Linked DNA regions of Homo sapiens: region 1 is linked to region 2. A link means that fine-mapping ties the variant in region 2 to the expression of a gene that starts in the linked region. Tissue or cell type: gastroesophageal junction. Region 2 holds a variant in brackets; the other region holds the start of a gene. All regions are shown on one strand. Distances are between the middles of the regions.

Region 1 (2,680 bases), 870 kb after region 2:
GTGAAAGGACTCCTGGATCTCTGCTGAGAAGGTGAGGTGGGGGGCTGCACAGATCATGCTCCAAGGCCAGGAGGCAGAGGGCCCAGAGTGAGCAACTGACAGTGAACAGGGAAGGCTCTGGGGGAAGGTGCTGTCCACTGGCCACACCCATGAAAGCACATATCCCTGTCTGGTGGGGGTGTCTGCAGAGTGGGATGGTAGCCACAGAGGTGGGCGCTGTGGACTGAGGGCAAGGATGGGGGTGGGGTTATTGGTAAGTGTTCTTCCTCCCTTCCCCCAAGAGTGAGTCTGGGTGGGGCCATGTCTGCCTTTCCCCCACAGGGCAGGGTCCCTATGATTGGAGCTCTGCCCACTGACTCCATCTGCCATTCCTATGACTCTGTGCATGTTGTCTTTCATTGTGTGCCCTTTATTTACATGACATGTTGTGCGTGTGGTATATATTTGCGATTGTACCATGTATTTCTGTGCACTGTGTCTCTACGCAATTTGTTGTTTGGGGCTATTTCGGCCATGTAGGTTTCCTCTTTTGTGAATTGCCTTTTGATATCCTTAACCCGTATTTTAAAAATTGCATTGTTAGCCCACTGAATTCCCTCCACCTGGCACACCCACTAACCTATTTCCACAACCTATCTGAATGCCACTTTTTCAGGAAAACTTGTGTCTCTTGCCCGTCTGTGTTGTGACTTTATGTGTTATGTCCGTCTACCTTACATGCATGTTCTGTTGTGTGTCTCTGTTGTGTACAGTGTGTTCCCCCTTGTGTATCTATGCCTATGGCTGGTGTGTACAGTACTTCTCTTTGTGGTGTGTTTGTGTCCTGTACATGCTGTGGTGTGTTCTGACCTGTGTCGGAACAACATGCGTTGTGCACTGTGTGTTGTGTATCTACATTATACTTGTGCTGTGTCTCTGTGCCGAACGCCTGTGCTGTTAGTGCAAGGTGTTGTGTGGCCTGTTTGGGCGTCCTGGGTCTGTGTCTGCGCCAAGGGTCCGCGCCGCCCTGCTGTGTGTCTGTGCCAGGGTCCGCCGGTGCCTGCGCGCAGAGCTGTGTTTCCTCAACAAGTGTGCGAGCGGTCGTGTGCGCCATGAGCGCTGCCTGGCGTCTCCGTGTGCGCCGCGGTGTGGCCGCTCCTCGGCGGGGGGCCCGGGTCCTGGCTAGTGGCCGCGGAGGATGCGCGCCCGCGGGGCGGGCGGGGGCGGGCGGGGGCTGGCGGCGCTGCGGAGCCCGGCGGCCGCGGGCTCCAATGGCGAGGCCGGCGCGGCCCCCGCTAATTACATAAGCGGGACGTCAATAATTCGCGGGAAAACGCGAAAAAGATGGCGCCCCGCGCCCGGGGGGCCCCTTCCTGAGCGCCCCGGCCCCTCCCTCCGCCGCCTCCCCCTCCTCCCCGCGGCGCCCCCGCCCCGCCCCGCCCCCGCCGAGACCCCGACCCCGGCCCCACGGGCGGACACTCGGCCGGGCAGCCGCGGGCCGAGCGCAGCCGCCTCCGCCACCGATGCGCCTGGTGGCCAGACTCCAAGTGGGACCGGCGGACACGCAGCCTCGCGGTGAGTTCTGCGCTGTTGGGCGGACTCCCCGCCACGCTCTCCCCTCCCGGCCCTCATCCCTCTCTTTTCGAAATCTCCCTGAACTTTGGCGGCCCGAACGCCTCCGGGGGGTGAGACTCCTGCGGAGCGGGGCTCTCGGGGGTGGGGACCGGGGGTGCAGGTTACCTGCGGGGCAGAGGGGCCCCACCCGGGTTCCCGAGCCCCGGGGGGCATGGGTGACAGGTCGTTCTTCCTCGCCCCCGATCTTTAATTTTCCTATCGGGGTGGGGGAAGGACAGACGGGCGTTTGGCATTTCGCTCACGTCCGAAGTCAGGCTGCGGCAGGGTTGGGATGGGGGAGGCTTGGCGTCCGAGCGACTGAGGAGAGGAGCGCTGAACCCGAAGGGGGTGCTTCTGCAAGCTTTTTCCCCCCTCCTGAACATCCTTTTTAAAAAGCCAACGGCCGCCCTGGGAGAGGCCCCGGCGCATGAATCATCCTCGCTTCCTGCCCCCGCCCGGCCCCGCGCTCCCGGTGCCGCGGATTTGAACTGGACGCAGACGGGAACCCGCAAACAGGCATTTCTTTGCAAATGGGTTTGAATCAGCCAATCACAGCCCGCGGGGGCCCGCTCCGGGAGGACGGAGGCGGGGGCTGGGGGGGCGCCACCCGGGGGCCCCCGCCCGGCCAGGGTGGAGGCGGGTGCGGCGACCCGGCCGGCTCCTAGAGGCGCAGCGGGAGAGGAAGTGTCAGTTTGTGAACCTGCAGCGGCCCCGGCCTGGCCCCTGGCCGGGCGGGCGGGGACCTCGCAGCGCCGGGCGAGCCAGGTGGCAGGGAGAGGACAGGGATTCAGACCGCATCCCCTGCCCGGGAGCCTGTGCGCTCTGCGCTGGAGAAAAAGGAGATGGGAGTGGGGGTGGAGAAGGTCGTGGCCACGCCACCATCTGGGGAGCCGAGACCCCTGCAGTGCCTGGCTCGCCCCAGGGCCCCGCACATACTTAGCTTCACACACTCCCTGGCACAATGCCGTAGACATCATCCTGCCCAGTCTCACAGGAGTACACACACGCACCACACAGAAACAGGCACTGGACTCTCTCCCTGTGAACAGATAGTCACAACACCAGGTGCCCAGCGCCATGGCCACAA
Region 2 (2,680 bases):
CTGCTCCTGGCTGGCCCCGGCCAGCCTAGCCCCGCCCTGATCCCAGACATGCCACTCCAGCCCTGTCCGCTGGGACTAATCATGGCTAGTTCAACAAAGGCTATGTTCCAACTCTCTGTAATGTGCTTTTAAAGGGCCAGTGTCCTACTTGGGCCTGCTGGGGTCTTAAAGGTACAGGTCCCTTTTTCCTATACAGGAAACAGGAAAGAAAAAAAAAACAAAAAACGAAACTCCAAAATTCATGATCAGGTTAGAGGCCCTCGGCTTCTGAGGAAGATTTTAGACACAATGAACAATAGTAAAAATTCAAAGTCCACGAAGGTCCCAAAGAGCTCAAAAACAAAACAAGGAAGCTAAATCTCAGGAATAAGAGATGAGATAGCAGCCCTCTTTGGGCACTATGTGCTGGGCACAGCACTGGGTACTTTGTGGCCCAGTCTCATTTGTTCCTCACCACTCCACAGACAGGCATTACCATTGCCCCATCTTTCAGATGAGGAAGCTGAGGGTGCAAGGGCTCCCCAGCTCGCCAGGACTTCATGCAAGTCAGCTGCAAAGCTGGGCCACACCCCGTGAGGTCCATCCCAGCCAGAGTATTCCTCCCACCTGCTCCCTCCACGAGGCCCTGACTGCTCCATCCCACCTGGACCACAGGCCCCAACTGCTCCACATCCTCCAGTGTCTCTTCTTCATGATGAAGAAAGAAGGGGGCAAGATGAGGAGTCTCACCTGTCACAGGTGCCCCACCACCAGGCTTTCAGTTTGAGCCTCAGAACCCTGTGGGGTCGGGTCTATCTTTTCCTTCATCTTCCAGATGAGAAGACTGGAAATCATGGCTTCTGACACAACACGAAAGAAGAGGAACACTAGGGGAAGGTGAAAGCAGAGAAAAGCGGGCAGTCAGAGGGAGGATGCGGGGAAGAAAAGGCAGGTGCAGGGAACCAAGGCAGATGGGGGCAACCGTCCTTCCAAGCCCAGGACTCAGGCAAGCTGGCCGAGGCCCTTCCACTGTCCACAAGAGTGGAGCTTCTCCTGGGGCAAGGGTGGGCAGGGCCTGCCTAGTTACTGGAATAGGAGTGGGATGGGGAGAGGAAGGGAAGAGAGACTGGACTGTCTGCGTCTCAGCACCTGGTCTACGGCACCCTCAGAGAAGCGTGGGCCATTCTGGCACCTGGAGTGGCTGGGCCCACAGTAGGTGCTGTGTGGCTATCTTCTTTTTTTGAGATGGAGTTTCACACTTGTTGCCCAGGC[T/C]GGAGTGCAACGGCGCAATCTCAGCTCACTACAACCTCTGCCTCCCGGGTTCAAGTGATTGTCTTGCCTCAGCCTCCCGAGTAGCTAGGATTACAGGCATGGGCCACCACACCTGGCTAATTTTGTATTTTTTTAGTAGAGACGGGGTTTCACCATGTTGGTCAGGCTGGTTTCAAATTCCTGACCTCAGGTGATCCACCCACCTTGGCCTCCCAAAGTGCTGGGATTATAGGCATGAGCCACCGTGCCCTGCCCAGTGTGGCTATCTTTGGTCAGAAAAGCCAAGGCCAGGAGGCGTCTTCAGGTCCAACTCCACAGGGGCTGAGTCATTCAAGGATTTAGCACCCTCACTCTGTTTCTGTGATGCCTGGAAGCCAAATAAGTTTCAGAATGTGTAGCCTGATGGTAAAGAAAATGAGCTCTGAAGCCAGGCTATGTTCAAACCCGGACTCTGCCACTTGTAACCTGTGTGGTCTTGGACAGGTTAAGTCACCTCCCTAGGCCTCTCTGTTTCCTCCTCAAAAATGGACATAATATTATTTACCTCATAGGATTGCCGAGAGGATACAGAACAAAGCCTTGCTGAGAGTGAGCGCGTAACAAAAGCCTGCTTTCAGCTGGGGTGAAGGAAGCTGCCCCAGGATAGCTGGAGGCACAAACAGGAAACTAGCCTCTTGGGTAGTGACTGTGGCCAAGTCATTTCTTTCTCTCAGCCTGTTTCTTTCTATAAAAGGACCCTCAGTGATTTCCAGGCAGGATCACCCCTCTGCCACCTTCCAGATGCCTGCTCCGTCCCATAAGGAGACAAGGACAGAAGGTGAGAAACACTGAGAAAGGCTGGGCTGTGGCCCAAATCCTTTGAGGCCTGAAAACAACCTGTCTCGGCTACCCAAGCCCAGACTAAGCAAGTCTGCTGGGTGAGTAGGAGGGGCAGAGCAGGAGGGAAGCGAGAGCCTAAAGCCACACAGGCTGTCAGGAGGCAGCATAAGTGGCTTTGCCTCTCCGGGAGGGGCCCTGCCTCCAGACCTCTCTGGGTTTGTCTTCCATGCTCACGTGTGGTCATGGCATGTGATCCGGCTGAGCTCACCTTACCTATGGGGAGTTCTGCATCAGCCATAGGGCCACCCTACACGCCTGTTGCAGAAACAGCCTCCCCAAAAGCTACAGGCTTTGCCGCAAGCATCCCCAAGGTTTGACAAGGTTCAAGGCTTGCCTCATCCTATCTTCCTGGAGCCGAATGCATCTGGTGCGCATGTGGGGAGAGGAGGGGGTGTCGAGCATCAGAGGAAACAGGTGGGTGGGAGGCAGAAGGAATGCCTTGGAGCCCTGGCAGAACATCTGGCCACTATTCTTGAGAGGTAGTAGGAGACCTGGGTGCCTTAACCTCCACCCTTACTACCTCACCCCCAGGATTAGTCAGTAAGAAGAG

The links. PIP is the estimated chance that this variant, and not a neighbour inherited with it, causes the effect.
Region 1: it holds the start of PHF19, and the variant in region 2 is fine-mapped to the expression of PHF19 in gastroesophageal junction (GTEx, PIP 0.99).

What each region holds. Positions count from the first base shown.
Region 1 is chr9:120,875,965-120,878,644 of GRCh38, reverse strand. It overlaps PHF19 (PHD finger protein 19), which reads left to right and starts at 1,457. Exons shown (of 15, transcript NM_015651.3): 1 at 1,457-1,554. RefSeq lists enhancers at 658-707, 968-1,017, 2,029-2,620 and silencers at 1,138-1,417, 1,658-1,707, 1,988-2,437.
Region 2 is chr9:121,740,971-121,743,650 of GRCh38, reverse strand. The region is part of intron 3 of DAB2IP (DAB2 interacting protein); the gene reads right to left. Among named protein-coding and RNA genes, the nearest start is that of DAB2IP, 91 kb to the right of the region's middle. RefSeq lists an enhancer at 290-989. The variant T/C (reference allele first, on the strand shown) is at 1,252.